7 linked regions of the Homo sapiens genome follow. The protein of the gene in region 1 purifies or fractionates together with the protein of each later gene. This does not show direct contact. Each region holds a gene or a part of one and is shown in the gene's direction. Other genes may lie near its edges.

The links.
Region 2: the proteins of EIPR1 (region 1) and VPS50 purify together in Homo sapiens (affinity purification with mass spectrometry; 6 studies listed by BioGRID and IntAct, with this or other methods). This does not show direct contact.
Region 3: the proteins of EIPR1 (region 1) and FDXR purify together in Homo sapiens (affinity purification with mass spectrometry; 3 studies listed by BioGRID and IntAct, with this or other methods). This does not show direct contact.
Region 4: the proteins of EIPR1 (region 1) and MLF1 purify together in Homo sapiens (affinity purification with a luminescence readout; one large-scale study listed by IntAct). This does not show direct contact.
Region 5: the proteins of EIPR1 (region 1) and CCT6B purify together in Homo sapiens (affinity purification with mass spectrometry; 3 studies listed by BioGRID and IntAct, with this or other methods). This does not show direct contact.
Region 6: the proteins of EIPR1 (region 1) and CHID1 purify together in Homo sapiens (co-immunoprecipitation; one large-scale study listed by IntAct). This does not show direct contact.
Region 7: the proteins of EIPR1 (region 1) and YEATS2 purify together in Homo sapiens (affinity purification with mass spectrometry; 3 studies listed by BioGRID and IntAct, with this or other methods). This does not show direct contact.

What each region holds. Positions count from the first base shown.
Region 1 is NC_000002.12:3,367,235-3,371,501, reverse strand, and holds part of EIPR1 (EARP and GARP complex-interacting protein 1), read left to right. Parts: intron 1-4,267. UniProt on the Homo sapiens protein: Acts as a component of endosomal retrieval machinery that is involved in protein transport from early endosomes to either recycling endosomes or the trans-Golgi network.
Region 2 is NC_000007.14:93,238,266-93,242,532, forward strand, and holds part of VPS50 (syndetin), read left to right. Parts: intron 1-1,600; coding exon 1,601-1,669; exon of another isoform or gene 1,670-1,685; intron 1,686-4,267.
Region 3 is NC_000017.11:74,870,024-74,874,972, reverse strand, and holds the start of FDXR (NADPH:adrenodoxin oxidoreductase, mitochondrial isoform 1 precursor), read left to right. Parts: upstream 1-1,978; 5' UTR 1,979-2,028; coding exon 2,029-2,107; exon of another isoform or gene 2,108-2,204; intron 2,205-2,656; coding exon of another isoform or gene 2,657-2,775; intron 2,776-2,839; coding exon 2,840-2,937; intron 2,938-4,949. UniProt on the Homo sapiens protein: Serves as the first electron transfer protein in all the mitochondrial P450 systems including cholesterol side chain cleavage in all steroidogenic tissues, steroid 11-beta hydroxylation in the adrenal cortex, 25-OH-vitamin D3-24 hydroxylation in the kidney, and sterol C-27 hydroxylation in the liver.
Region 4 is NC_000003.12:158,595,028-158,599,294, forward strand, and holds part of MLF1 (myeloid leukemia factor 1), read left to right. Parts: intron 1-1,834; coding exon 1,835-1,918; intron 1,919-3,052; coding exon 3,053-3,181; intron 3,182-4,267. UniProt on the Homo sapiens protein: Involved in lineage commitment of primary hemopoietic progenitors by restricting erythroid formation and enhancing myeloid formation.
Region 5 is NC_000017.11:34,937,285-34,941,551, reverse strand, and holds part of CCT6B (T-complex protein 1 subunit zeta-2), read left to right. Parts: intron 1-930; coding exon 931-1,013; intron 1,014-1,838; coding exon 1,839-1,935; intron 1,936-2,221; coding exon 2,222-2,369; intron 2,370-4,267. UniProt on the Homo sapiens protein: Component of the chaperonin-containing T-complex (TRiC), a molecular chaperone complex that assists the folding of proteins upon ATP hydrolysis.
Region 6 is NC_000011.10:900,251-904,517, reverse strand, and holds part of CHID1 (chitinase domain-containing protein 1 isoform a precursor), read left to right. Parts: intron 1-739; coding exon of another isoform or gene 740-814; intron 815-1,406; coding exon 1,407-1,556; intron 1,557-2,187; coding exon 2,188-2,320; intron 2,321-3,537; coding exon 3,538-3,582; intron 3,583-4,267.
Region 7 is NC_000003.12:183,749,324-183,753,590, forward strand, and holds part of YEATS2 (YEATS domain-containing protein 2), read left to right. Parts: intron 1-2,749; coding exon 2,750-2,930; intron 2,931-4,267. UniProt on the Homo sapiens protein: Chromatin reader component of the ATAC complex, a complex with histone acetyltransferase activity on histones H3 and H4. YEATS2 specifically recognizes and binds histone H3 crotonylated at 'Lys-27' (H3K27cr).

The sequences.
Region 1 (4,267 bases):
CTCTGCACGTGAGATGGGCTTCCTGAATACAGCACACTGATGGGTCTTGACTCTTTATCCAATTTGCCAGTCTGTGTCTTTTAATTGGAGCATTTAGTGCATTTACATTTAAGGTTAATATTATGTGTGAATTTGATCCTGTCATGCTGTTAGCTGGTTATTTTGCTTGTTAGTTGATGCAGTTTCTTCCTAATGTCGATGGTCTTTACATTTTGGCATGAGTTTGCAGCGGCTGGTACGGTTATGCCTTTCCATGTTTAGTGCTTCCTTCAGGAGCTCTTTTAGGGCAGGCCTGGTGGTGGCAAAACCTCTCAGCATTTGCTTGTCTGTAAAGTATTTTATTTCTCCTTCACTTATGAAGCTTAATTTGGCTGGATATGAAATTCTGGGTTGAAAATTATTTTCTTTAAGAATGTTGAATATTGGCCCCTACTCTCTCCTGGCTTGTAGAGTTTCTGCCGAGAGATCCGCTGTTAGTCTGATGGGCTTCCCTTTGTGGGTAACCCGACCTTTCTCTCTGGCTGCGCTTAACATTTTTTCCTTCATTTCAACTTTGGTGAATCTGACAATTATGTGTCTTGGAGTTGCTCTTCTCGAGGAGTATCTTTGTGGCATTCTCTGTATTTCCTGAATCTGAATGTTGGCTTGCCTTGCTAGATTGGGGAAGTTCTCCTGGATAATATCCTGCAGAGTGTTTTCCAACTTGGTTCCATTCTCCCCATCACTTTCAGGTACACCAATCAGGTGCAGATTTGGTCTTTTCACATAGTCCCATATTTCTTGGAGGCTTTGTTCATTTCTTTTTATTCTTTTTTCTCTAAACTTCCCTTCTCGCTTCATTTCATTCATTTCATCTTCCATCACTGATACCCTTTCTTCCAGTTGATCGCATCGGCTCCTGAGGCTTCTGCATTCTTCACATAGTTCTCGAGCCTTGGCTTTCAGCTCCATCAGCTCCTTTAAGCACTTCTCTGTATTGGTTATTCTAGTTATACATTCGTCTAAATTTTTTTCAAAGTTTTCAACTTCTTTGCCTTTGGTTTGAATTTCCTCCTGTAGCTCGGAGTAGTTTGATCGTCTGAAGCCTTCTTCTCTCAACTCGTCAAAGTCATTCTCCGTCCAGCTTTGTTCCGTTGCTGGTGAGGGACTGCGTTCCTTTGGAGGAGGAGAAGCGCTCTGCTTTTTAGAGTTTCCAGTTTTTCTGCTCTGTTTTTTCCCCATCTTTGTGGTTTTATCTACTTTTGGTCTTTGATGATGATGATGTACAGATGGGTTTTTGGTTGGATGTCCTTTCTGTTTGTTAGTTTTCCTTCTAACAGACAGGACCCTCAGCTGCAGGTCTGTTGGAGTTTGCTAGAGGTCCACTCCAGACCCTGTTTGCCTGGGTATCAGCAGCGGTGTCTGCAGAACCGCGGATTTTCGTGATCCGCGAATGTTGCTGTATGATCGTTCCTCTGGAAGTTTTGTCTCAGAGGAGTACCCGGCCGTGTGAGGTGTCAGTCTGCCCCTACGGGGGGGGTGCCTCCCAGTTAGGCTGCTCGGGGGTCAGGGGTCAAGGACCCACTTGAGGAGGCAGTCTGCCCGTTCTCAGATCTCCAGCTGCGTGCTGGGAGAACCACTGCTCTCTTCAAAGCTGTCAGACAGGGACATTTAAGTCTGCAGAGGTTACTGCTGTCTTTTTGTTTGTCTGTGCCCTGCCCCCAGAGGTGGAGCCTACAGAGGCAGGCAGGCCTCCTTGAGCTGTGGTGCGCTCCACCCAGTTCGAGCTTCCCGGCTGCTTTGTTTACCTAAGCAATCCTGGGCAATGGCGGGCGCCCCTCCCCCAGCCTCGCTGCCACCTTGCAGTTTGATCTCAGACTGCTGTGCTAGCAATCAGCGAGACTCCGTGGGCATAGGACCCTCCGAGCCAGGTGTGGGATATAATCTCCTGGTGCGCTGTTTCCTAAGCCCGTCGGAAAAGCGCAGTATTTGGGTGGGAGTGGCTCAATTTTCCAGGTGTTGTCTGTCACCCCTTTCCTTGACCAGGAAAGGGAACTCCCTGACCCCTTGCACTTCCCGAGTGAGGCAATGCCTCGCCCTGCTTCGGCTTGCGCACGGTTCGCTGCACCCACTGACCTGCGCCCACTGTCTGGCACTCCCTAGTGAGATGAACCCGGTACCTCATATGGAAATGCAGAAATCACCCGTCTTCTGCGTTGCTCACGCTGGGAGCTCTAGACCGGAGCTGTTCCTAGTCGGCCATCTTGGCTCCTCCCTGAAATATTATTTTCTGAGGTTTGAAAAATGAATGAAATTGATTCTCTAAGGTAGTCAAATATATTATTGGATTTTCTTCTTTATCTTAAAAGAAGTAGCTGACTTTTGCTACTTGGATTTTATCGGATAGTATCATGGACCAAGACTTTCTTAAGTTTGAAGAACCATCATTGCAGTAAACAAGAAAACTGAAAAGGATAGTGTTTTTTTTTGTTTGTTTGTCAGTGACATTCAAATCCCATGGAGAACACTTTACATGAAAGGATAGAGATCTGATCGTTGACCGCTGAGTGAAGGTAATGACACTTGAAAGATAAAGGGCAGTACTGCAACTGCAAATAAAAGACCAACACGGAGGGTCGTTAAGATCGCAAAATGCTGAGCAAATTCATGGTAATGATTCTGGATTTTTTTATAATTATATTTGAAATGCATGAAATTTCAAATGATATTTGAAATGCTTTTGCACACTTTTAGTTTACTGCTCAGTAGAAATCCATTTTCTCAATATGAGTTTAATGAATACTTGTCAGTTAACACAACAGTAGTTCTTTGTGACTATCTCAAAGTGCATACAAACAGTATGACTTCTCTCCTGCAATCATGTTTCTTTGAACTTTTGACATTAATAGATCTTCTTTGTTGTGTGGGTCAAATCTCCATGTGGCAAACTTGCCTTGTGATGGGAACAGTGAACCTCTAGGCAGTGGTGGCTCTGCCCATGTGTAGGTCTGGGGGCAGGCATGTGACTAAGATGGACCAGCGGCAAGCAGGGCCTGCAGGTGTGGGCAGAGTGAGGGCTACATCTGCCAACTCCTATTTGAGCCCACTGCTGCCAAGTGAGCTGGGCCAGACCAGAAAGGACGGTCGGGGTGGGAAGGTGGGTGACAATGATGACTTGGGCTTGTTTCAAGTTGCTTTCCCTTCGGTTTACCACCAAAACCAGGAAGCAAGCAGGGCAGGTTGTAAGCCACACAAGGATATGCGTGCCTCCTTTCTGTTCTGGGAGGTTCTCCTGGAGTCCTGAGATCAGTGCAGTCAGGTCAGAGGGGCAAAGAGACTGTGGGCTTTTGGCTTTTTGTGCCATCAGTCTGAGGGACAGATGGACCAGGCCAGCGCTTCAGGGTCTGCCTGTTGCCAAGTGAGGAAAGACTTTTGAAATGGAAGATGGAGATTAAATTTTCTTTTCTTTTTTCTTTTTTTGAGACAGAGTCGCTCTGTCACCCGGGCTGGAGTGCAGTGGCGCGATCTCAACTCACTGCAAGCTCCGCCTCCCGGGTTCACGCCATTCTCCTGCCTCAGCCTCCTGAGTAGCTGGGTCTACAGGCGCCTGCCACCGCGCCTGGCTAATTTTTTGTATTTTTAGAGAGGGGGTTTCAGGGTGTTAGCCAGGATGGTCTCGATCTCCTGACCTTGTGATCCGTCTGCCTTGGCCTCCCAAAGTGCTGGGATTACAGGTGTGAGCCCCCGCACCCAGCCGAGAGATTAAGTTTTCAAATGCCTTTTTATATCCATGGAATTGATAATTTGGTTTTAGGATTTTTCTCTTTTGATCTCTTTGGTCAGTTACATTAATAGCTTTTTAAATATTGGCCCAGCGTTTGCATCCTTAGAAAGAATTCCACTTGATTGTGGAATAGTCCTCTGCTGGATTCGGTTTACGAGTCATTTACTGAAAATTTTCACGTTAATATCTGTGTATTTTCTTCGTTGAGTTTTGTTTCACTGCTATGCTGGCTGCATAAAAAGCACTTGGGAATTTTCCTTCTGTTTCTGTGTTGGAAACAACTGAAGGTAATATTGGTGTTGCCTGCTCCTAAGGTGTGGTGCTGTTACAGTGTTGACTTGTTAATCTGTGGTAACTAGTTGTTCAGATTTCTTGTCTTTCTTTTCTGATCAGTTTTGGTAACTTACATTTTCCTGGAAAATTCATCATTCATTCAGTGAACAAATATTTATTCCCTGCAATAAGGCACTATTATGTGCCTGGAACACAGCATAGGAGGAAACA
Region 2 (4,267 bases), on another chromosome or scaffold:
CTCATTGAAAGGCATATTAAACCTCCTTAGGCCTTTTTTTTTTTTCCAGCGAGCATTCCTAGAAATTTTTTTGCAGTCAATTACATGTTCCCATGGGAACAATGCGCTAATTTGTGGGAGATTGGAGCCTGACCAATGACTTCTACCTAATAATTTACTCATTTCTTTGTTGTTTACTCTGTTTCTGGAACTTTGCTAGCCACTGGGCTGCAGAGGCAAATAGGACTTTGTCTCTCCCTTTCCTTAGGACTTAAAGTTTGGAAGAGAAAGATATATTTAAAATTTAAAACTTTACTACTTTGGCTGAGGTATTGTCTTGGAAGATGTCTTACTGAGGTATTGTTTTGGGAAAATGCACATTCCTGGCCCAAATCTAGAAAAACCTATTCATTAGGTTTATTTTAGGGCCTAGGAATCTTACTTTTAACAAGTTCCCTGGGTGGTGTTGATGGACATGATCCAAGGGTTATACTGAGAAATACTGTGTTCTTTGGAGCATAGGGATTTAGGAAGACTTTGTAGAGGAGATAATTCTGAAAGTGATGTATTGCTTTCTCATTTCTTGGAGTGGTAAGTGTGCCTGAGAGAGGGAGACGGGGAGAGAAGGGTGGGTAGGTTAGATATTCTGGGGGTAATGGAAAACTTGCGGTTGAGGCAGAGCACTTTGTAATAAAAAATTTTAGATATGACTAGTGGTATTTTACAACAGGGAAGAGAAAATACACATCTCTGTAGTTTAAAGATAAGCAAGTTCTGCTCTGAGTCTCAAATAGTCAACATAAGCATACCATATATTTTGGTTACTAAGGATCCCCAATATAGGGCACCTAAAGGACAATTTGTATCATAAATCTCTCCTCAAATTAATAATAGCTAATTTTGCCTAAAAACTAATATTGCAGGGACATTAAATGTCTGCTTCGAATAGCCTATTTTTAAAAAGAGGATTTTAAAGAAAATGTAAATTGCTGATTTCTTTCTATTTTAATAATTTCCCCTGGTACAAATAAAGCTTTCAGAATCCCTCAGTTGATGTGAATATAGAAAGTACAGGGCACCAAAGAACTAAAGGACAGGTAAAAGACAGTGAGATATGAGACTTCAATCTTAATTTATGCAGCATGAATTGGATACATTGGTGGGAAATAATCAAGTAAAATGAAGGGATTACTTATATGTTAGCTTAGTTGGTTAGTATATTGTATCTGTGAATCATAATACTATTGCTTGGACTTTTTTCCTGATGGATTTAGTAATTATTATTGTATATACAAGTGGCTTTTATAGAATGCTTTTTGTTATGTAAGTTTCTTTACTTTTGGCTGTTTTCAAATCATAGATGGGTTGGACTTCTACCATTAGTTGTGAAGTTGCCGTATAATACTCTTTTATTTTAAAATACCAAAAGTACACCCTTCTCTGATTTAATAATAGTACTATATGTATTAAATGATGATTGCTTTTAGAATATATCTTCCATATTTTGAAGCAGGAAAATTTCTATTTTTAAAGTGGTCATTTCTGTTTCAGTAGGTGTATTCTATCCTTTTATAATTCTTCAGCATGATTAAAATTTTCCTCATCTTATTATTTTTTTAAGGGTCTGAAAAGCCCTCAAGAAAGCCTCAGTGATCTTGGTGCCATAGAGAGTCTCCGGGTCCCTGGAAAGGTATTGAGCTACACGTGTGAGCGTGACTTTTTACTTCCTTAAGAAAATATGATTGCCTCTGGATAGTAATTGATTCACAGAAGCTTTTCTTTCCCACAGGCAGATGGTTGTTAAGATAAGCTAGGTAAATTTTTATTGTATAGTAGGTGTAGGGCTTGTTTCATTACACGTTGGGATGCAGTATGTATGATGCATTATAGCAAAGCAAAAAATGCAAACTTGATAAATTTGGAATTTATTATATTAAATTCTTAGCCTGAAAGCAGTTGTATATATGTGTATGCACACACACACACACACACACACACACACACACTCTCTCTCTCTCTCTCTCTCATTGATTTATCTGCTGTAATTTGTAGAAATAAAGTGAAATAGTTGACTACTGACTTTTTATACTCCTAACATTCTGTGCCAAAAATCATGATTATATTTTTGTTGTGGAGCAGAGGTTTTTGAAAAAGCATCTAAACCATAGTATTTATACTGAATTGTATAACTTATCTCCTAGATTGTAGGTATTTTAGATTTTAATCCTCTGATATTCACGTGAATTTCTCAGTTTACAAATTTTATATAGGTTATTTGAAAGCTAGCTAGATTCCCCTTGGAATTATTAAGTATTGTTAAATCCCTGCTGTTTTTCTGGAGTGTTGCTGCTTGGAGCTGCCCATGTGAATAGCTGCTCCATCACAGATTAAGCTGGCACTTCTGAATGTCTGTTTTTGTATTTTTTAATTTGAGAGTGATACGTGAAAATACTGTTTGTTTTCTGCATCAGGCATTTGAATACACAGGGTGTGCTTCTCTTGATCAGCAGTTTAAGGCCTCTCCTTACACCTCGGTGTCAGCTCCTTAGGAGGATGATTTCTCATCTCTTTCAGGTGCCTTACCTGCTAAAGTGAATTTTGTATTTACTGCATTGTTTTTATTTTGGGTTAGGCTGAAACATATTCTCCAAATGCAATAAAATTATAACCAACCCTTTTGCATGAAATGGTTCAGACAAAAACTTAAGAAAAGCATTCCGTATAGTTTTATGTAATGTTATTAAAAATTAATGACTATGAAAAGGTTGGGAAACAAGAGATAGCCATAAATCCTAATTAATTGACAATAATTCTCTTTATTTCTTTGAGTTAAGAAAAAGATTATCATGCATTATGAACATACCTTGAATTAGATTGTATTACATATTGCAGAATCAATGTCAAATTGATGAGTGAGCCTCTTTAAAAAAATACATTACAGTCTTAACAAGAACTTTCTGTTGTGTTTCCACCATGAGCCATGATGTTTTCCCAGTACTGGTTGGTAGTGAATATGGTGATCTCATTACAAAGTCTTCTTATTAAATGTACACCCCTAGCTCCATCAGTGACCAGTGCTGTCTGTACTTTTAGGATAACTGGCCTTGGGTGGAGTGGCCAGTCTGGGATCACAAGGTCAGCAAATATAAATGGTTCAGGTGAAGAGTAAGCCTAAAGCACTGGTCTCTTTAGCACATACTAAGAAGCTAAGTTAGTTAAATAATAAAACAGTTAATAGTAAAAAATGTATTGATGCTATAAGCTTACATTTAACCTTACACTAAGAAATCCCTACAAGCTTCATCTGCCTGTTTGTTTTTTCTGTGTTCTCCTATAGCATAACAAATGATGGAGGGTGAGCAGAGCTTCTGCCTTCTTTCTGGGTGGTTCTGAGAACATGAGAGTTGCTGGGTCCAGAGAGTGGCAAAGCTCCAGTCAGTAAACTGAGTCTTTGGATGAGGTTTGAAGTCAGTACTGAGATCAGGAGTTAAGAAGACTCATATTCAGAAATTCCCTACACAGCATAGCTTGATGTAGCTTTAATGTTCAGTATTTTTTCACAATTTAGATAAGACTTTATACTTAGATCATAACACATATATTTTAATGATTTATTTTTGTATAATTGCTTTGAAATTAATGTTGTTGCTAGTTCTTGATGACCTGAAATTTGATGTAATTGAAGAAGATCTTTAAGATCTTTTAAAATTAAGATTAAAAGCATTTTAACAAAATGGAAAATGTTAATTCAAATGATTATTTTGAAATAACTTTTGCTTTAAATATAAAATTAATGTATGCTCTAAACAGAAAACATGGTAAACGGAAAAAGGTATCTTAAAAAAAAAATCACAAAAATCACCAACACTGTCAAGGTTAACATTGCCTACTGGTCTTTTCCCTATGCATATTCCACAAATTTATTGAGTTTCTATGTGCTAGAGATACTTTCTAGGGATTGGCAGTATAGCAGTGAAAAGACAAAAGTTCTCTCCAAAAGTCAAAACTTCCCTGCTGTCAGACAGCGAGCTTACATTCAAGCAGGGGTAAGGCGATTACAGATTATAATACTGTGAAGGAAACAGGGCGATGAGATAAACTCCTTGAAATTGGCAGTTATTTTACAGGAAGTAGTCAGTATAGCTTTTTATAATGGTATTATAAGTTATACAACCTTTTAAAAATGGTATCATACTCTAGAAATTATTTGGAAGCTTGGGTTTTTAACTTGGTGATATATATATATATATAACATAGAAAATTCTCACAGTATATTCTAGGTTTAAAA
Region 3 (4,949 bases), on another chromosome or scaffold:
CTTATAATGTAGTGCAGGGGTGGTCAAACTCTGTAAAGGACCAGATAGTAAATATCTGGGGCTTTGCGAACCATATGATCTCTGTTACAACTACTCAATTGTGCCATCAAAGCACAAATATAGCCATAGACAATATGTAAAGAAGTAAGCATGGATGTCTTCCAATAAAGTTTTATTCAAACTGAAGTCTGAATTTCATGTAATTTTTACGTGTCACAAAATGTTGTTTTTTACCATTAAAAATATAAAAACAAGCTGGGTGTGGTGGCTCACTCCTGTAATCCTGGCACTTTGGAAGGCCGAGGTGGGAGGATCGCTTTGAGTTCAGGAGTTCGAGACCAGCCTGGGTGACATGGCAAAACCCCATCTCCACAAAAAATGCAAAAATGAACCAGGCGTGGTGGCAGGCACCTGTGGTCCCAGCTACTCCGGAGGCTGAGGCCTGAGGCTCGCTTGAGCCAAGCCAGGAAGCAGAGGTTGCAGTGAGCACCACTGCACTCCAGCCTGGGTGACAGAGCAGGACCCTGTCTCAAAAAACAAAATCAAAACCAAAAACAAAAACCCCAAAACCTCCAAAAAAACAAAAACAGTAAAAGCCATTCTTGTTGGTCATCCAAAACATGCTGGTGGACAGTATTTGGCCTGCAAGCTATAGTTTGCCTACTCCTGGTCTAGTGGGACAGGCATAAAACACAGTGACCTATTAGAAAGCAGACAGCATTTACTTACCAGTGGGAGGGAGGGGAAGTGACCAGTAAGGGCACAGAGGACTCCTGGGATACTGGCCATGTTTTATTTCTTGATCTGGGTGGTGGTTATATGGTTACACCTTGTGATATATTGTCAAGTTGTACACTCATGATTTGTGCACTTTTCTGTATGTTATTATTGAATTTAAAATCTCATTAAAAACGACAACCAGTGTAGTAAGTCATGATGGGATAAGGTCAGATGCTGTGGAATGAGAGGCCTTTAACTCCTTGGAACTTGGGAGGGGACGGGTCAGAGAAAAGGCTTCTCCAAGGAAGTAATATTTGACAAGAGGGCCCATGGGGAAAAGGAAGAGGGGTTAGGCTTATTGGGTCAGCTGTGACTACGGATCCTGTCCTTATTTTTAAAAACATTTTGATCATAGACTTTTTGCATTACTTTTGACCTTTTAAAACGTTGCAGTATTATATTTATCTTGATTACTGAGTGTTTTGGAGCCCCCTTAAATTCTGAACCCGAGGGGAGTACCTCAACTCTGGTCCCGGCTCGGCTGCACGGGGGTCGGACGCTCTGTCCTTAGTACCATACGTAAGCCACTGCCCCGCCCCGCTTTTCTTCACCTATGTAATGGGAAAGGAGGTGAGGTGGGACGAGCTTTCCAGGGTTTAATATTCTCCCTGGCCCGGCAAAGACGGGGATTTGAGGGGTTACATCGGCACAACACCCGGGGTCGAAGAAGGAGGCTGCTGGGCTCCGGGAAGGAGCTCCCTCGCCCCAGACTTCCGCACTCTGGTTATTTCCCAACGGCGGGAAGGCTCGCTTGGAGCCGGACTCGTGATTGGCTAGGACGAAGTCACGTGGGAGGATTCGCAATCAAATGGCAAGGGCGTCTGCGTCATCAGTGAGCGACGAGAGCCTCCCGAGAGGGGCGCGGCTAAGTAAAATAAGCTCCTTTCTTAGTGGCTGTTTCCTTGGGGAGGGACTGAAACAGCGATGGGGATTCGCTCTCTTCCAACCCTAGGCTTCCGGGATTTGGAGGGAAGGTGAGGCCTGGGGAGAAATGTATTAAATCGCGTATACCCCGGATGCTCCGAGGGGCGGGGCTTCGACGGTGGGGCGTAGTTAAGGGCGGGTCTCTCTTTTGGGGGCGGGATTCTCTCGGGAGTCGGGGTGGAGCCGCAAGGCTCCGCTTTCCCGGAGCGCAGGGGGCGGGGTTTGGGGCGGGGCCTCGCTTGTGGGCGGGCCCGGGCAGGAGCGGGCTTGCCCTGCGGAGCAGTAGCTAGGAACAGATCCACTTGCAGGTTGCTGCTCCCAGCCATGGCTTCGCGCTGCTGGCGCTGGTGGGGCTGGTCGGCGTGGCCTCGGACCCGGCTGCCTCCCGCCGGGAGCACCCCGAGTAGGAGCAGGGCGCCTTTGGGGCTGGATGGGAGCGCGGGGAGGCCTGCGAGCGCTGAGTAGGGGTCGGAGCAGAGCTGGGGCAGGGCTGGAGAAGGGTGAGACTGAAGGGGTGTCTTCCTGCTGGCGAGATCCCGGTGGTGTACGGGGGTGGGCGGAGATCTGTGCGTGAGATGTGAGGCTTCTAGGGTTAGAGACGGAGGTCAACAAAGGTGAAAAGGAGAGACTTTGAGATCTACAGGTGTGAGACGGGGTGAATGGAGGATGATACGGAGGTCTGTGGGGCGAGAGGAAAGTCTGAGTCGAAACAGGGATCTGTAGGAATAAGACGGGTCTATATGGGCAATATAGCGTTTTGTGGAGAGAGAGAGGGGTTAGAGGAGGGACACCGTGGGGAGACCCACGGGGGCGAGATTGGGATGATATGGAGGCCGTTGGAAGGATGTGGGATTCTAGCCGATTGGATAGGGAATGAAGTGTTGTTGGGCAGGCCATTGGCAGTGGTGTAGTAGGTTCATGGGTGAGATGTGGGCTCTGGATGAACCCACAGCCTTTGGGGGTTCAGATGAAGTAAGAGACCCTGCAAATGCCAAAGCCTTGAGGAACAAGAGAAGGAGGATGCAGGTGAGGGTGAAGCTTGGGAAGTTCCAGCTTCTGTTGGATATTCAGGTTGGTTTGGGACTGGGGAGAGAAGTTAATTTTGACCTTTTCCCTCTCCTCTGCCTGGCCCCAGGCTTCTGCCACCATTTCTCCACACAGGAGAAGACCCCCCAGATCTGTGTGGTGGGCAGTGGCCCAGCTGGCTTCTACACGGCCCAACACCTGCTAAAGGTAAGCCACTTACTCATAGTCCATCATTCACCTGCTGCTCCAGTCCTAAGGGCAAGCCTCACCCGCTTTGGGTTTTAAGAGCACTCCTGGTTGCCTTATGGGGAAGGGGCTCCCAGCCATCTGGCCTGGACACTTCCCACTTGCTTCCTCACCTACACCTGAGGCTCCCCTCCCCTCCCGTCCTCAGTGTGACAGGGGTGTAAAACGCACATTGGTGGTGAGTGGTCAGTGGCAGGTGGTCAGCTTTGCCTCCCTGGCCAAGCACTCCAGGGGGCTTATGTAGACCTGCAAAATGACTTTGTCCTCCTTCATCTTCCCTCCTCTCTCGTCTATCTTCACTCTATCCCAAACATCCTACATCTCGAGGCTACCCACCTCCTCCGCTTTCTGTAACTTTACCTGCCTTGCCATGCCCTCCTCACCCATAGCTCCAGTCCTCCGTGCCATTCTGTTCTTTCAGCCTGCCCTCTGCCCCTCCCCCTTCCCCTGTGAAGGCCAGGATCTCAAGGCTTTCAGTGTCTGCCTCGGCAGGAAGGGCCCCAAGCCAAGGCTACAGGTTCTACTTGAGACTCCACATCAGACTTTGGGACAGAGTAGAGAGGGGATACCCAGGTTAACTGAGACGTGAGACAGTTGCCTAGCTTTGGAGAGGCTTGGAGTGTCCGTGGAGAGACAAGAGAAAGGATGAATATCTTAATTATACACACACACACAGATGCTTGAAATGTAGGGTGACCAACTGGCCTGGACTGCCCAGGACAAGGGGCTTCAGCGCTAAGCTGGAAGTTCTTGGGAAACTGGGATGAGTTGATCACTCTGCTGAAAAGTGACCCGTGCATGCTTCCCAGGCAACACGGGTGAAAGAGCTAATTACAATAATGTGGGCAGCGTGAGCCGAGGCAGGTGGGGTCAATCAGAAACTGTTTCCTGGGCCGGAAGCCCAGGTGGCTCATGTCTGTAATCCCAGCACTTTGGGAGGCCAAGGCAGGTGGATCACTTGAAGTCAGGAGTTTGAGACCAGCCTGGCCAACGTGGTGAAACCCCATCTCTACTAAAAATAGAAAAATCAGCCACGTGTGGTGGCACAGGTCTGTAGTCCCAGGTACTTGGGAGGCTGAGTCGGGAGGATCGCTTGAACCCAGGAGGTGGAGGTAGCACTGAGCCAAGATCAAATCACTGTACTCCAGCCTGGGCGACAGAGTGAGACCCTGTCTCAAAAAAAAAAAAAAAAAAAAAAAGAGAGACAGTGCATTTGAGCTGCCTTGAAGCAGACCAAGGGCTTTGGTGAGGGCCTCCCACATGTGGGGAGTCATCCTGGAATGCAAGGCCTTGGGCACGCTGCCATGTGGGAGGGAGGACAGCCTGGGCTCTGGGATGGAGATCAGGGAGCACATGGGGGCTGGAGAGGCCCTGAAGGGCTTTGTATAAGGGACAGTTTTTTTTTAGCTGATCCTGACATTTTGGAAGGGAGGAGAGTAAGCTTTCCAGGCAGTGTTCTTTTTTTTTTTTTTTTTTTTTTGAGATGGAGTCTGGCTCTGTCGCCCAGGCTGGAGTGCAGTGGCACAGTCTCAGCTCACTTCAACCTCCATCTCCCAAGTTCAAGCGATTCTCCTGCCTCAGCCTCCTGAGTAACTGGGATTACAGGCGCACTCCACCACATGCAGCTAATTTTTGTATTTTTGGTTGAGACAGGGTTTCACCATGTTGATCAGGCTGGTTTTGAACTCCTGACCTCAAGTGATCTGCCCACCTCGGCCTCCCAAAGTCCTGGGATTACAGGCGTGAGCCCCCGCGCCCGGCCAGGCAGTGTTCTTAGCACGACTGTATTCAGCTGGCAGACACGTGCACATGCTTTCCTTGTGGAATGGGATGGGGAGGGGCTCAGGCCAGGTACAATCCTTGTTCTGATCCTTGGGCTGATCTTTGCCCACAGGGAGCTCCAAGCTACTGGCTGTGCTCCTAAGACAGGACCACATGCAGCACGTTTGGGACAGTGGCCCTTAGCTTGAGTC
Region 4 (4,267 bases), on another chromosome or scaffold:
TATATGTATTGGGGATATTGTAGTAAATAGACAAAATCGCCCTGCCCTCAGAGATTATTTTTATAAAGTGGGAAGATAGACAATAAACAACAAAATAATTTCAGATAGTCACAGTACCCTGAAGATGAAACAGGGTAATGATACAGAGATGGGGGGAAGTGAAGGAGGGATTAGACAGGTGACCAGCGGTGGCCTTTCTCAGGTGGTGATACTTGAATCATGAGAAGGAACTAACTAGGTTTAAAGTCAGGAGGAAACATTTAAGGAAGAAAGAGGAGAATGTGTACAAAATTTTTGAAGGCCTTAAGGGCCCACTGAAGTCTCAACTACATTTTGTACCCCAACTTTTTGTCACTCCAGTGTGTTGGGTCACCCCAGAGCAAGTGCAGATACATCTTTTGATGGTTGATTTGAACATGAATTGAGAAGAGGGCAGAAATACCCAAATGTCTAATCTTTTCCTCTCTCTCTTTTTATCCTTCTTTGGGTTAACCTTTCCATATCTCATGAAATAAGAACGGATTCTCAATCTAGTGTTAAAGCAAATATTCAGAATATTCCCTGAATTGTGTTTGCCTCTCTGAAATGCAAAATTAATTCTACTTCAGTCCTTTTTTACCCAAATATATATTAGTATTTCCTAAATGTGCCTTTGTTGTTCCCTACAATATTAAGTGCAGGTTCTAAGGAGGAATTTGGTTTTCCCACCTATTTTACATTATTATATCTGTAAAAATCCAATAGCAATAGAACACAGAGACACAAATAGAACTTAGGAGGATTCAGAGCTCCGCTTGGTTGAACAGAGAAGTTCATTAAACCAAGCAACTCATTCTGTTTTATAACAGATGATTTACTGGCTAACACATTGGAATGTGTGCCTGACTTTTATTTTCTGGTGAGTCTTCCAGTGATAAAACCTAAAATCAGTGGTAGATTTTAAAACCTAAAATCAGTGGTAGATTTTCCTAGAGCAAAGTTTCTCAACCTCAGCCCTACTGTCATTTTGGGCAGGGTAATTCTTTTTGTTCTGGGAGACTGTCCTATCCATTGTAGGATGTTAAGCTGCATCCCTGACCTCCACCCACTAGATGCTAGTTATATGCTCTCTTCATCTGTGACAGCCAAAAATGAGTATAGTTATTGCCAGTGTCCACTGAGAGTCAAAATCAATCTTGGTTGAGAAACTACTGTTTAGAGGAATTCTTAACTGTTTTTCTGAAGACACATACCTCATGCTTCAAGGGTATAGCCTACTGACCCTTCAGTAGGCAGCAAATTGAAGGCCTATTAGTAAAGTGAATTGATTTCTGTCACCCAGATCCTACTATGATGAGAGGAAGGCTGGCTACTTACTCGAGGGACAACTTCTGTCAGCCATGTGGTACTGCTGGAGGTGACACTGGCATCTTATACGCAAATTTAGTTATTTGCATGGTGGAGTATTGAGAGATAAGGAAAATTATGAAAACTATCGTATGCTAGAGAATGTATCACTTAGTATTTAACATACACCAAATTATGTTTTGAAAAAGTGAGTAATGAGTGATTAGGTGTGTATGTGTTTTTATATATACATGCACATATATGTATTTATAATGTTACAGTTCCCTAATTATTTGTATGTTGGCTCTTTGGGATTTTGTGTATGCTTCAATTTTCTCCTTAACTAATCACTGTCATTATATCCTCTAAGTTATCTTTGTCTGGTTGATTACTGCATGAGATTTCACTAAATGAATTGGAAAAAAATGTTTTAGCTGTTTTGGAAGATGTATTTGCATCTTTTGTGTTGTTACCTACAGTTAATAACATACTTCCTGATATTCTGTAGCATACAGATGTCAGCTCTTTCCAGACAATGGACCAAATGGTGTCAAATATGAGAAACTATATGCAGAAATTAGAAAGAAACTTCGTAAGTACTAAAAACAAAGCATTGAGAACATTGTGTATACTTTGATATATTCTATTTCATAGTGGCTTTCAAACACTTTTTTAACCATAGTGGTTAAAAAAGATACCTTACATGATTAACCCAATAAGCAATATTTGTATACTTTATAAATATATTTGAAGCAAAAGTTTCATGAAAAAATGACTATACTATTTACAGTATATACAGTTATTTTCTAGTCTATTTCATGTATTAAAAATCCTGGTTACAACCCACTAAATTGAGTTCATAACCTCCAAGTTTGAAAAATAATGTTAACTTTGAAAATTTTTTAAAAATTGGAAAAAAAATAACCTCAAAAACATTGATTCTATTGAAAGTCACTATTGTAAATGAACATTTTATATGAATTTGCATAATTTTATTATTAATAACCTGTCTACTTAAAAGGATTTGTAGCATCTGAAGAGTTTCAGGGTTTTATAAACGACTCTGAAAACAGAAATTTTAGGAATAATGTTTAGGTATAGTTCCCTAATAGTCCAAATAAACTAGTACTATAATAATACTCTCTATATTAACATCAAAACCAGTCACTTGATTTGATCTGAAGAAGACCCATAACATTCTAGTCATCCAGTTTGAATTCTATGGATCATTTCAGAATGCCCAAATAATCTAGGGCATTATTGGTTTTAGTAATGTAGCAATCTGGTACCTACAGGAGGAGGTACGAAACTTGATGTATAACTAATTGATTGGCTTAATGTTGGCAAGATTACACACAAGGGTCAACCACTGACTATAGAAGTATCACAGGTTTGGGGGCATAGCATCTTTATTGAAATCTAAGCCACGAGCACCCAAAGACTTAAGGATCTCTGAGTGAGTCACTTATTAGTCTTTGTAACGAGAGTGGGATAATTGTACCTAAAATGGACGACCGTTAGGACCCTCTAGGGGTGACTTTTTTTGGGCGGAGGTAATTTTTCAAGTCACTTCTCACTTGAGAACCTGGGTGTGCCTTTGACTACACCATATTGGTAGTTTAGTATCCTTAGTAGAACTTACAGCTAGTGTTGTTACTTATTTGAACTCTCTGGCAATAATTATTTATATTTGACTCGACTGAATTTACAATTTGTTTACCTGTAGGGTCAACTTTCAGTGGATCCAAATGGACATTCATTTTGTTCTTCCTCAGTTATGACTTATTCCAAAATAGGAGATGAACCGCCAAAGGTTTTTCAGGCCTCAACTCAAACTCGTCGAGCTCCAGGAGGAGTAAGTTTTCTATAAGCATTCCTAAAGTTTTATAAAGTTAGGGGATGATAGACTGTCTAGATCAAATTTTAACTATTAAAATTTAATCTGGTACAAGATGGTGGGGGGACAGGAGGGAGGTGTGGGGGTTGGGGGTAAGGTAGTCCTCACTGTGGAAACCATTAAAGCTCAACTGTATTTACTTAGTTTGTGGCATTTTTTTTGTAGCCCCCCCACCCCCCCGTGAGGGTGCCTTTTTTCATGTAAATATCTATGGATGTTTATTACCTTTACATGTTGACAAGGTAAACAAAACACGAAAAGAAGCCTTTGTTTCATGAAATTAATGTCTATTTTTAAGTTTACATTTGAAGTGAATTAATTTTTTAACTCATGAAATATTTCAAGTGTACAGAAAGGATATAGAGAATAACATAATAAGTGCCCATATTCCTGCCACCCAGTTTAGTCATATCATAACATTTTTCTCTATTTGCTTCAAGTTGTCTCTTGCTTTGTTTTCTTTTTAAGCGAAAATGTACAGAGGCAGTTAAACCTTCTAATACATTCCTCTGAGGTCTATTTTCCCTTTCTCCCCTTCTCAGAGATTACCATTTTCCTGTATCTGGAGTTTATCATTTTCACGCATGTTTTTACAATTTTATTACTTCACGTTTCTGTCATTAAAAAAATGGATTATTTTCCAGATTTCCCAACATTACATAAAGGGTATCATATTGCATATGTCCTCTGCAACTTGTCTTTGCTGAGTAATATGCTTCTGAGATTTATTCAGCTTGATACATGTGGCCCTGGTTTCTTTAACTTCTATGTAGTATCCAAAATATGAATATATTATGATTAATACGCTTCTGAGATTTATTCAAGTTGATACATGTGGCCCTGGTTTCTTTAACTTCTATGTAATATCCAAAATATGAATGTACCATGATTTTTAAATCATTTTCTGTCAATAGATATGTAGGTGAGTCTAATCTTTCACTAATTCATCTTTATACATGGCTCCTTATACAGAGTCTAGGAGTGGTATTGCTGAGTTGTAGGGTATGTGTACTTTCCTCTTTACCTAGCGTTTCCAAGCTACTA
Region 5 (4,267 bases), on another chromosome or scaffold:
TGTCAATAACATTTGAACTTTTTTAAAAAATTAGAATTTCAGAAAACTTGTATCTGCCATGTGAACTTGACAGCTTTCCAATACTTAAAAGACTTTCCTGATAATAGTAGTGATATTAACAAATGTGAGTTTTTGTTCACTGAGATAGGCAAAGTTTCCACATGCATAACATGACACAGTTTCTACATGTATAACACAACATTTTATATATGAAATGTGTCAACATGTGGAAACTTTGCCTAACTCAGTGAACTGATGCTATCTACATGACTAAAAATGCATGATTTTTATAAAATCATACATGGATAAATAATCCATTCAGTGTGCAAGTTACAGCAATGTGTTTTAATGTGAGATAGTATGAAAAGTTCATTGCTATGGTTCCATAGTGAAACTAACCTTTGAGAAACTATTACTTACTGAGTTTTGGTATAGTATCAAAGAAGAATTTCCATAATTATCTGAAAAGCCTATTAAAATATTACTCCCTTTACAATATTTATCTGTGTGGGGCCAGATTTTCTTCATAAACTTGAACCAAAATAACATATCATTCCAAATTGAATACTGAATGAGATATGAGAATCCATTTGTTTTCTATGAAGATAAACATTGAAGAGATTTGCAAAAATGTAAAGTAATGCCACTGCTAGCTCACTATATATATTTTTGTTTTCAAAAGTGTAGTAAATTTTCATTTAAAATGTTATGTGTATTAACATAAAATGGGCTTATTATTTAAATGAATTAATAAATATTTTAAAAATTTCTCAGTTTTTATAATACAAATATTATAGATAGAGCTTACATAAACAAAAGCTTTTTGGGTGCTTAATCATTTTTAAGAGAGTAAAGTGGTGCTGAGACCAAAAGGTTTGAGAAATACTGGTTTAAAACATGTTTATAATTTTTATGTTAATTTGATTATAGGGAATTGATCCATTTTCCTTAGATTCTCTTGCAAAACATGGAATAGTAGCTCTTCGCAGAGCAAAAAGAAGAAATATGGAAAGGTAAGCTTGCAGATAATTATATATCCTAAGTTTTTAACAGAGTAAATGGAAACTATCCCATGTGTTTTCCTTTTAGCTTATGTGTAAATGTTGTTGAACAAAACAGTGGCATAAAAAAATCCAAATTTTGTTTTTAGTTTCAGTAAATAATTGAACTGTCAAAAAGCAAGGTTGTTAACCTACTGCAGAACTTTGTTGAAGTATAAGGAAAGTTTTTATCTTTTTAAAACAGATTTTAAAAACAAAACAATACAACATAATACAGCATGATCTCACTTTTATATATGGAATCTAAAAAAGTTGAACTCATAGAAGTAGATAGTAGAATGGCGGTTACCAGGGGCTGGGGCAGTGGGAGGGGAGGGGCACTGGGAATATGTGGGTCAAAGGATACAAAATTTCAGTTAGTTAGGAGGAATAAATTCAAGAGATCTATTGTCCAACATGGCAACTGTAGTTAATAACAATATATTGTTCTTTTTAAAAATCTTTTGCAAACCCACCCGAGAATGCACAATGTGTTGGATTCTTGAAAAATGCTGAGAGTAGATTTTAAGTGTTCTTATCACACAAATGGCTAAATCAAGCCTCACATAGGCAATATGTATGTTAATTAGCTCAATTTAGCCATTCCACAGTGTATACATATTTAAAAACATCATCATGTTGTACTCGATAAATATAGACAATTTTATTAGACAATTAAAAACCCAAAACAATACAATACAGTAACAATACAGTCTTCTGCATTAGATATCTTCTCTCTGAGAAATTAGTATTAATGTTCTCCATAATCAAGCTATGGTGACATATATGTAATTTCAGACTCTCTCTTGCTTGTGGTGGAATGGCCGTGAATTCTTTTGAAGATCTCACTGTAGATTGCTTGGGACATGCTGGTCTTGTGTATGAGTATACATTAGTGAGTATTTCTATGAACAGTGGTTATAAAGTGAATACTAAGCCCCCTTTTTTAAAGAAAAATACTACTTGACCTTTTATTTCATGTTTTGTGTTTTGAGATCTAATTCACAGAACAGATTTTACAGTTTATTTACCTAAATGTTTGTTAAGAGTTCAGATATAACTTAACTCCCTTAGTTATGCTTGATAAGAAAAATTCAAATGAAGATTGTATTCTAGTATAAATTGTTGATTTTATAATGACATCAAATATTAAAGTTATATATTTTTGTGCCACCCTTTAGGGTGAAGAAAAGTTCACTTTTATTGAGGAGTGTGTTAACCCTTGCTCTGTTACCTTGTTGGTTAAAGGACCAAATAAGCATACTCTCACACAAGTCAAGGATGCCATAAGAGATGGACTTCGTGCTATCAAAAATGCCATTGAAGATGGTAAGCTCTTTCTTGTGATTGATATGAACCTCATGTATATGTGTGTATATATGTATATATATATACACACACACCTATGTATGTATATATGTATATTTTTAGACAGAGTCTTCCTCTGTTGCCCAGGCTTTAGTGCAGTGGTGCGATCTCAGCCCACTGCAACCTCTGCCTCCCAGGTTCAAGTGATTCTTCTGCCTCAGCCTCCCAAGTAGCTGGGATTACAGGCACACACCACCACACTTGGCTAATTTTTTGTATTTTTAGTAGAGATGGGGTTTCGCCATGTTGGCCAGGCTGGTCTCGAACTCCTGGGCTCAAGCGATCTGCCCTTGTTGGCCTCCCAAAGAGCTGAAATTACACGTGTGAGCCACCATGCCTGGCCTTTAAGTCTTTTTAAATTTTATTTTTATTATTAATCTATTTAATCTATTTATTTCTTTTGAGACCAGGTTTTGAAACTGGCTAATTTTTGTATTTTTGGTAGAGATGAGGTTTCACCATGTTGCCAAGGTTGGTCCTGAACTCCTGGGCTCAAGGGATCCACTTGTCTTGGCCTCCCAAAGTGCTAGGATTACTGGCATGAGCCACTGCGCCTGGCTGCAAACCTCACATATATATATTTTTCTCAAGACAGGGTCTTGCTCTGTCACCCAGGCTAGAGTGCAGTGGCACAATCATGGCTCACTGCAGCCTCAAACCCCTGTGCTCAAGTGATCCTCCCACCTCAGCTGGACGATAGGTGCATGCCACCACACCTGGCTAATTTTTAATTTTTTTTTGTAGAGATGAGTTCTGTCTATGTTGCCCAGGCTGGTCTTGAACTCCTGGCCTCAAGCAGTTTTCCCCCTTCAGCCTCCCAGAGTGCTGGGATTTGTAGGCACGAGCCACCACATTCAGCCCATGTTGAGCATCTTTTAATGTGTTTATTTGCCCTTTGTATATCTGGTGAATTTTCTGTTTAAATCTTTTGCCCTTTTAAATAATTGGATTGTTGGCCATGCACAGTGGCTCTCACCTGTAATTCCAGCACTTTGGGAGGCCAAGATGGGAGGATTGCTTGAGCCCAGGAGTTGGAAACCAGCCTGGGCAACATAGCAAGACCATGCCTCTACACACACACACACAAATAGCCAGGCGTGGTGGCCTGTACCTGTAGTTCCAGCTACTTAGGAGGCTGAGGCAGGAATATCACTTGAGTCCCAAGAGTCTGAGGTTACAGTGAGCTATGATCACACCACTGCACTCCAGCCTGGGCGTCAGAGTGAGACCCTGTTTCCAGAAAAAAAAAAAAGAGAAGAAAAGAAAAGAAAAAAATTTGTGTTAGTATACTATTGTTGAGTTTGAGAGTTCTTTGTATATAATTTGGGTACAAGTGCTTTTTCAGATATATAATTGGCAAATTTTTCTCCTCTGTGGCTTATTTTATTATTAACAGTGCCTTTCAAAGAGAAGTTCTTAATTTTGATGAAGTCTAATTTATTATTTTTATTCTGTCATGGATTATGCTTTTGGTGTGGTATCTGAAAAATCTTTACCTAACCTAGGGTCATAAAGATTTTCCTCTAAAAGTGTTACAGTCTTATGTTTTACATTTAGGTCTGTGATTCATTTTAAGTTAAATTTTGTATATGGTGCAAGTATGGATACAAGTTCATTTTTTTCATATAAAGGTATCAGATTGTTTTAGTCTTATTTGCTGAAAAGACTTTACTTTCACCACCGAATTGCCTTTTCTCGTGTATAAAAAATCAGTTTTTCATATTTGTGTGGTTCTATTTCTGTGCTCTTTTTTCTGTCCTACTGATGCATTTGTCTATTTTAATGTTAATATCATACTGTCCTGACGACTGTAGCTTTATAATAAATCTTGAAATCAGTATTGTTAACTCTCATTTTTT
Region 6 (4,267 bases), on another chromosome or scaffold:
TGAGTGAGCAGCCTCTGGAGCCAGGTTTTGAGGGCAAGCAGGGTGCCTCCCCACTCACCCCACGTGGGGCTTGTTTTATGTGCCAGTTGCCAGTTTCCATGCTCTACCTCTCGTTTATATCACCTGCATCTTCATCTTGCTGTCTTTATCATGGCCTTGAGCTGTGTTTGCCTCATGCTTTTTGGGACGTTCCCCTGGGATGGCCCTGGGGATTGCACCTTCAAGGGTGTAAACTCATAGAACCACCTCTCAGCCCCAGCAGTCCCCATGCCGCTGGCCAGACCCTGCCACAGGACTGTAACTGTGACCTAGTCCTGGACTGGCAGATGCTTTCTCTGTGCTGTATGGGGGCAAATAAACCATGCAGTGGACATCTCTCTCTCACGGGGCCGCTTGGGGCGAGGTCAAGGGGAGGCTGAGCCGGGCCACAGAGTGTGGACAGAAGAGACAAGTTGATAACTGGATGGAAGGTTTCCAGGAGCAGAGGTGGAGTAGGGGCAGGTGTGACATGGCAGGAAAAGACTCGCATTGGCCAGGGGGGTGGCAGGCAGTGGTTGACCAGCAGGGTTGCATTGGTGGGGGTGGTGGCAGGCAGTGGTTGGCCAGTAGGGTCGTATTGGCGGGGGCGGTGGCAGGCAGTGGTTGGCCAGCAGGGTCACGTTGGCGGGGGCGGTGGCAGGCAGTGGTTGGCCAGCATGGTGGCGTGTGCCTGGCATGTTCTTTTCTTTTTTTTTTTGAGGTGAAGTTTTGCTCTTGTTGCCCAGGCTGGAGCGCAATGGCGCGATCTTGGCTCACCGCAACCTCTGCCACCCAGGTTCAAGCGATTCTCCTGCTTCAGCCTCCCGAGTAGCTGGGACTACAGGTGCCCGCCACCATGCCTGGCTAATTTTTGCATATTTAGTAGAGATGGGGTTTCACCATGTTGACCAGGCTGGTCTCCAACTCCTGATCTCAGGTGATCCACCTGCCTCGGCCTCCCAAAGTTCTGGGATTACAGGCGTGAGCCAATGCACCCAGCGCACCTGGCATGTTCTTGTCCAGCAAAGCGTATGGCCCTGGAGTGCCCGGATGGGTATCGAGTGGCCAGAGCTGGTGCAGACCGTCCACCCTCACATGCAAGGAGGGAGCCACCATAACTGTCTGTCTGCCTGCCTGCCTTCCAGCCCGGAGCAAGGGTGGGAAAGGCCCTGTACCGTCGGCCAGTGTCTGTTGACGGCCAGAGTGCTTCTGAATTGAATTGCCTGCTGTGGCCTCGATCCTCAACATACAGGGTCTCCGGGTCAGCAGCACTGTGTGGATCCAGAGACTCGGCTGCTGGCTGAATGGAAGGGACTTGCTGGGTGGGGCTCTGTGCTCTACACTGTGGACAGATGACTGAGGCTTTTCTCTCACTCCTTTTATTTCAGAGTCAGTTTTCAGATAAGCCGGTGCAAGACCGGGGTTTGGTGGTGACGGACCTCAAAGCTGAGAGTGTGGTTCTTGAGCATCGCAGCTACTGCTCGGCAAAGGCCCGGGACAGACACTTTGCTGGGGATGTACTGGGCTATGTCACTCCAGTAAGTTGGGGCCCTCACAGTGCAGAGGGAGGTCCTGAGGCTCAGGTGGGCTGCCCTGGCCCCGTGATGGCCTCTTCTGGCCAGTCAGTGATGGGGGTCTATGTTCTGATCTCCCGGAGCTGCTGCTGCTGTGAGGCTACGGTGGGAGAGATGCCATTCTGGAGATGTCAGAGTGTAAGACCCTGGGGGTCTCTCCAGGGGCTTGCTGTGCTGATCTCTGTGGGTTCCCCCTGAATCCAGAGGTGGGCTCGCAGGTCGTCTGGGGTCAGGAAGTGGATGTGCAGAGCCAACCCTGGGCCAGGGAGGGGTGGGTTCTCACACCCAGCCTCCTCTTCTCTTGCTGTTCCCAGCTGCCAGCCTGCAGCAGTGGTGTGCACTAGCTCCAGGTGGGGCTTAAGACAAGCACCAGTCACTTTTGGTGAAAGGGATGTCGTGGCCTGGGTCCCAGGCTGTGAGTGGCAGTCCAGAGTAGGAGAAGGATACCCCAGGCCAGGAGCTGATGTCAGTCCGGGCTGGTATCTGTCTACGCTGGCCAGCCCTGGGCACGTCCAGAGGCGCCAGAATGACAGCACCATGGTGAGACAGGTGCTCACTCACCTGTCCTCCGTCTGATGTCTCCATCTTTTGCCAGTGGAACAGCCATGGCTACGATGTCACCAAGGTCTTTGGGAGCAAGTTCACACAGATCTCACCCGTCTGGCTGCAGCTGAAGAGACGTGGCCGTGAGATGTTTGAGGTCACGGGCCTCCACGACGTGGACCAAGGTTCTCATCCTTCCTGCTTGACTGTGCTTGCCCCACAGGCTGAAAAGAGTGTGAGTGCGAGAGCAGGGGTGTGTGTGTGTGAGTAGGTATGTCTCTGTGGGTGTCTCTGTATGGGAGTGTGTGTGTGTCTCTGCGTGATTTAAGTGTGAATGTGAGTGTGTAAGTGTGAGACTGATGATGTGGGAGAGAAGAGATTGTGAGTGTGTTGAATGTGACTGTCGGTGTGGACATGTCTAAGTGTGAGACAGTGGGTGTGAGTGTTGAGTGTGGTGACTGTGAGAACCACGCCCTCACCCCTTGGGGCCCAGCCGGCAGAGCAGGCCCATGGTGTGGGCTGGTGTGCTAAGTGGGAAGGTGAGTGTGGAGCAGGGCAGGCCTGGTAGAGGGGGTTTCTGAGGTGGTCGCCACGGTGGGACCCTCTGCAAGGCCAAGTTGGTGCCTCAGAGTGTTCCGCCCAGGTCTGCGTGTGGTCCAGGTGGCTGTGAGGGTGGCCTTCCCTTGCACTTCCGGGCTGCACACAGGCGTGTGCAGGACAGGCTCTACAATGACTCAGGCAGCCTCTGGGCAGCAAACGGCACGGGCCATTGGCTTCTCCTCCTCTGTCCCTCTCTCAGCGATTTTCATTCAATGCCAGGGAGGAAGGTGGGGTTCAGGCGGAGGCTGCCTCCTGATGGCACATCCTGACCTGATGACGTCTGCCCGAGTTTACGTGGCTGCGCCTTGCGTTTGGGCTCGGACAGAGAGAAATGGCAGGGGAAGTGTTAGGCAGTTTTGGAGTTCAGAGAGCAGGAGTGGTTTTCCCTGACACTGAGAGAACCGTGGGGAGGTGATGGAATGTCAGCCAGTGTCAGGGCCTGGCGGGTCTGGCCATCCCTCAGCTCGGAGAAACCCTGACCGTCCCCAGGCCCTAGGATGCAGCTGCCTGTTCCCCTGGCCGGCCACAGGCTCTGAGCTGTCCCAGCTCAGGGAGGGTAAGCTCAGAGCTGCTCTGCAGGGTCAGGAAGGGGGCCTTGGCCAGAAGGGTGGAGAGTTGGGGTCAGGAAGAGGGTGTGGAGAGCCAGCCCTGGGCCAGGGAGGGGTGGGTTCTCACACCTGCCTGCCCGCCCCTGCCCTTCCCATTGCGTATTGTGCGGCTGCCACGTTTTCCTCCTCAGGTAGGCTGGGTCTTCCAGTTGGGCGCACGTGCCTGTGTTGACTGTCCCCTCCATGTCCCACAGGGTGGATGCGAGCTGTCAGGAAGCATGCCAAGGGCCTGCACATAGGTAAGTGCGGCAGGCCAGGAGTGGAGGCCCTGATGGCTCAAACTGCGGGGGTGGACAGGTGGGCACTGGGGTCTCCACGTGTTCCTGATCACCCGGCTGTGCTGCTGCGGCACAGGTTACTTTGACCGCTCAGAGATGAGGCTGGCCCTGGCCTGGCATTCACAGCCCTTAGTCTGGCTGGAGTCCTGAGCTCTCCTCCCCACACAGGCTGTGGCCCTCCAAAGCCAGCACCTCCTTGGCCAGTGGCATTGCCCTAATTGTTCTCAATCCCATTTCTTCCTTCATTCACATGATGAGTCCTATCAGGGCAGCTGGGGCCAAGCCCTGGGCTTGGCCTGAGGGTGATGCTGACCCTGGCCCATCTGTGCCCCTGTAGCTCACGGCTGGGGAAGGGGGGACATGTGTCCCCACGTCCAGTAGCAGCCTCAGAGGCAGTGGATTAAGAGCACAAGTTGCCAAGGGAGAGACTCTGGGGGATGCTAGAAGCAGGTGACAGGGCTGAGCTGGAGCAGCCAGAGTCTGTCCCAGCCTCCCTCCTGTAAGGTGGGGCCACAACCATGCTGAGCCGTGTGGGGAGCTGGTGTCAGGGGACCAGGACTGTCAGTGTCTGCTCGCTCCTTCCCCACCACCCCTCCCTCTCCAGCCTGTGAGGCTCTGGGACATCCTCTCTGGACATGTGGGTGCT
Region 7 (4,267 bases), on another chromosome or scaffold:
CTAGTGGCATTAAGTATATTCACATTATTATGCAGCCATGACCTTAGTCCATCTTTAGAACTGTTTTCGTCTTGCAGAGCTGAAACTCTGTACCCATTAAAAAATGACCACCCACTCCTCCCGCCCCCCCAGCACTGGCAACTGCTGCTCTACTTTCTGTCTGTGTGAATTTGACTACTCTAGGGTACCTCATATAAGTGGAATCATAACATATGTGTCTCTTTGGGATTGCCTTATTTCGCTTTGCATAATGTCCTCAGATTTCATCCATGTTGTAGCGTATGTCAGAATTTCCTTCCTTTGTAAAAAAATTTATTTTTATTTATTTATTTTTGAGAAAGAGTCTTGCTCTCTCTCACCCAGCCTGGAGTGCAATCACGGCTCACTGCAGCTTTGACCTCCTGGGCTCAAGTAATCTGTCCTTAGCCTGTCAGGTAGCTGGGACTGTGGGCGTGTGCCACCATGACCAGCTAATTTATTTACTTACTCGTTTATTTATTTATTTATTTTTTGAGATGGAGTCTCGCTCTGTTGCCCAGGTTGGAGTGCAGTGGCTCGATCTCGGCTCACTGCAAGCTCCACCTCCCGGGTTCACGCCATTCTCCTGCCTCAGCCTCCTGAGTAGCTGGGACTACAGGCACCTGCCACCACGCCCGGCTAATTTTTTTTTTTTTGTATTTTTAGTAGAGACGGGGTTTCACTGTGTTAGCCAGGATGGTCTTGATCTCCTGACCTCATGATCTGCCTGCCTCGGCCTCCCAAAGTGCTGGGATTATAGGCATGAGCCACCGCGCCCGGCCTACTTGTTTATTTTTTGTAGAGACAGGGTCTCACTATGTTGTCCAGGCTTGTCTTCAACTCCTGGGCTCAAGCTGTCCGCCTGCCTTGGCCCCCCAAAGTGTTGGGATTATAGGCATGAGCCATTGTGCCCCGCCCCTCTTCCTGTTTTAGGCTGAATAATACTGCATTGTATGTATATACCACATTTTGTTTATCCGTTCACCTGCTGATGGACACTTGCGTTGCTTCCAGCTTTTGGCTGTTGTTAATAGTGCTGCTATGAACGTAGGTGTACAGGTATCTATTCAAATCCTTGCTTTCAGTTCTTTTGGGTATATACCCAGAAATGGAATTGGCTGGATCCTATGGTAATTCTATTTTTAGAGGAACCACTGCTATATTTTTTCGTGGTAGCCGCACCATTTTACATTCCCACCAACAGTGCACACGTATTCCAGTTTCTCCACGTCTTCACCAGCATTTGTTAATTTTTTTTGTATTTTAATTTATAGTAGTTATTCTGTTGTTTGTGATGTGATATCTTGTGGTTTTGATCTGTGTTTCTCTAATCATTAGTGATGTTGAGGATCCCTTCATGTGTTTGGTGACCATGTGTTTATCTTCTTTGGAGAAATGTCTATTCAGAGACATTCAGAAAATGTCTTTGCCCATTTTTAAATTAGGTGGTTTGGTTTTTGTTGTTGCTAAGTGACAGGAGTTATTCATATATTCTGGATAGTAACCCCTTACCAGATAGATGATTTGCAAATATTTACTTCCATTCCGTGTTATATTTTTGCCTTTTCACTCTGTTGATTGTGTCCTTTGATGCACAGAAGTTTTTAAGTTTGATGTCCCGTTTGTCTATTTTTTATTTTGTTGCCTGTGCTTTTGGTGTCGTGTCCAAGAAACCATTACCAAATTCAGTGTCATGAAGCTTTTCCCTTACATTTTCTTCTAGGAGTTTTATTGTTTTAGCTTTTATGTTTCGTTCTTTGATCCTGAGTTAATTTTGGTATATAGTGTAAGGTAAGGGTCCGATTGCATTCTTTGGCATATGGATATCCAGTTTCCCTGGCACCATTTGCTGAAAATACTGTCTTTTCCCCCACTGAATGGTCTTGGGACCCTTGTCAAAGATCATTTGACCATATATGTGAGGATTTATTCTGTTCCATTGGTCTGTATGTCTGTCTTTATGCCAGCAGCATACTGTTGATTACTATGGCTTTGTAATAAATTTTGAAATCAGGAGTCTGAGACCTCCAACTTTGTTCTTCACCTTCTCTCCCTTTTTTTGTATTCATCATATAATAATCAGCAATAGCCATTTAATCAGAGTTCACTAATTAAATCTTACTCTGTCTAGAGAAATCTGCTGTATTATATCAGAAGGTACTTATTGAGCGCTGGTCCAGGTGCTGGGAATACAGAAATGAACACGGTAGCTTCTTCCTTCAGAGTCAAATTCTTAGTGGCATTGAAAATGGGGAGGGTAGACAGTAAACACAAAAGCAAATAAAATTACTTCAGTTACAAATAAGTGCTGTGAAGATAAGAGTAGCTGGGGGATAAGGAAGTAGCTTATTCTTGGGTGGTTAGGCATGGTCTCTCTGAGAAGGTGCTACTTCATTGAGACCTGCTGGTGAGAAAGGCAGCCATGCAAAGATTTGGAGGAATAGCGTTGTAAGGAGTAGCAACAGCAAAATCAAGAGGTCCCAATTTTGTGAATAATTTCACTGAGATTTGTATGTTAAACCAGATTAGATTTTCACTGAGGTATGTGTCTGTTAAGCCAGATTAGATTACCTTCTAGAATAAATCCTTTAGTTCTTCAGATTGAAATTGCCTTTGAAGTGTGATTAGAAGTTATCTCTCACATCCCGGAGATTACATTCTTGGACGGGACTTGAGCTTTCTGTGACATTGATGATGGACTCATGAGCCTGATTGTTGCCCAATTGTCTAGGTAGTGGATGTTGAACTCCATCGCCATTCTCTCGGAGAAGACTGTATCTATCCTCAGTCCTCGGAGTCTGACATCTCTGATGCCCCTCCATCTTTGCCTTTGACCATTCCAGCCCCAGTGAAAGCTTCTTCACCAATAAAGCAGTCACATGAGCCAGTACCCGATACCTCTGTGGAGAAAGGTAATACAGCAGTTTTCCTTGCATAGCGTTGTTCTGAGGCATTCCTTTCCCATTTGCTGCTTTCAGAGACCTATAGTATATGGAAAATAACTTTGCTATAAGTGGACATGCTGCCTCTACTACACAGTTCTGTTATGAAAGCCAAATTTCCACTCTTGTCAAAAATATTTTTCCGGCCGGGAGCTGTGGTTCACACCTGTAATCCCAGCACTTTGGGAGGCCAAGGCGGGTGGATCATGAGGTCAGGAGATTAAGACCATCCTGACTAACACGGTGAAACCCCGTCTCTACTAAAAATACAAAAATTTAGCTGGGTGTGATGGTGGGTGCCTGTAGTCCCAGCTACTCGGGAGGCTGAGGCAGGAGAATGGCTCGAACCCGGGAGGTGGAGCTTGCAGTGAGCTGAGATGGTACCACTGCACTCCAGCCTGGACAACAGAGCGAGACTCCATCTCAAAAAAAAAAAAAAAAATTTCCATGAAGTTTTACTGACATATTATAAAATGTAAAAATAGCTAAAAAACATAAGATTTTTAAATTTATTTTTATTTTATTTTATTTTGAGATGGAGTCTTGCTCTGTTGCCCAGGCTGGAGTGCAGTGGCATGATCTCGCCTCACTGCAACCTCCACCTCCTGGGTTCAAGCAATTCTCCTGCCTCAGCCTCCCTGTTAGCTAGGATTACAGGCGTCCACCACCGCTCTCGGCTAATTTTTGTATTTTTAGTAGAGATGGGTTTTCACCATGTTGGCCAGGCTGGTCTCGAACTCATGACCTCAGGTGATCCACCCACCTTGGCCTCCCAAAGTGCTGGGATTACAGGCATGACCCACCACGCCTGGCCTAAAACAGATTTTTATCACTTGATAATTCCTTATAATGTATTACAGGAAGACTTTATGGTTCAGCTTCTGATTGTGCGAGCAAGAAACTTGGATATTAAATACCTGGTTTTACTTAAGAAAAGATTCATCACCAACAATGTATTTTGACCATGCCATTTTTAAATTTAACAAATATATGTGTATAAATACATATTTTAATGTTCCCATATATAAGCATAAAAGATATAAAATTGATCTTAAATGTTTTATTTCTAAGCCTATATTTTAATGTGGTTAGTATTATAGTTCTTTTATAAAATCTCAACTTTATTCCTCTTTAGATTTCAATTGCATCTTTTTTATGGGCATTTAATAAGATACAAGAGGGGCCGGGCACGGTGGCTCATGCCTGTAATTCCCAGCCTTTTGGGAGGCTGAAACCATCGGATCACCTGAGGTCAGGAGTTCAAGACCAGCCTGGCCAACATGGCAAAACCCCGTCTCTACTAAAAA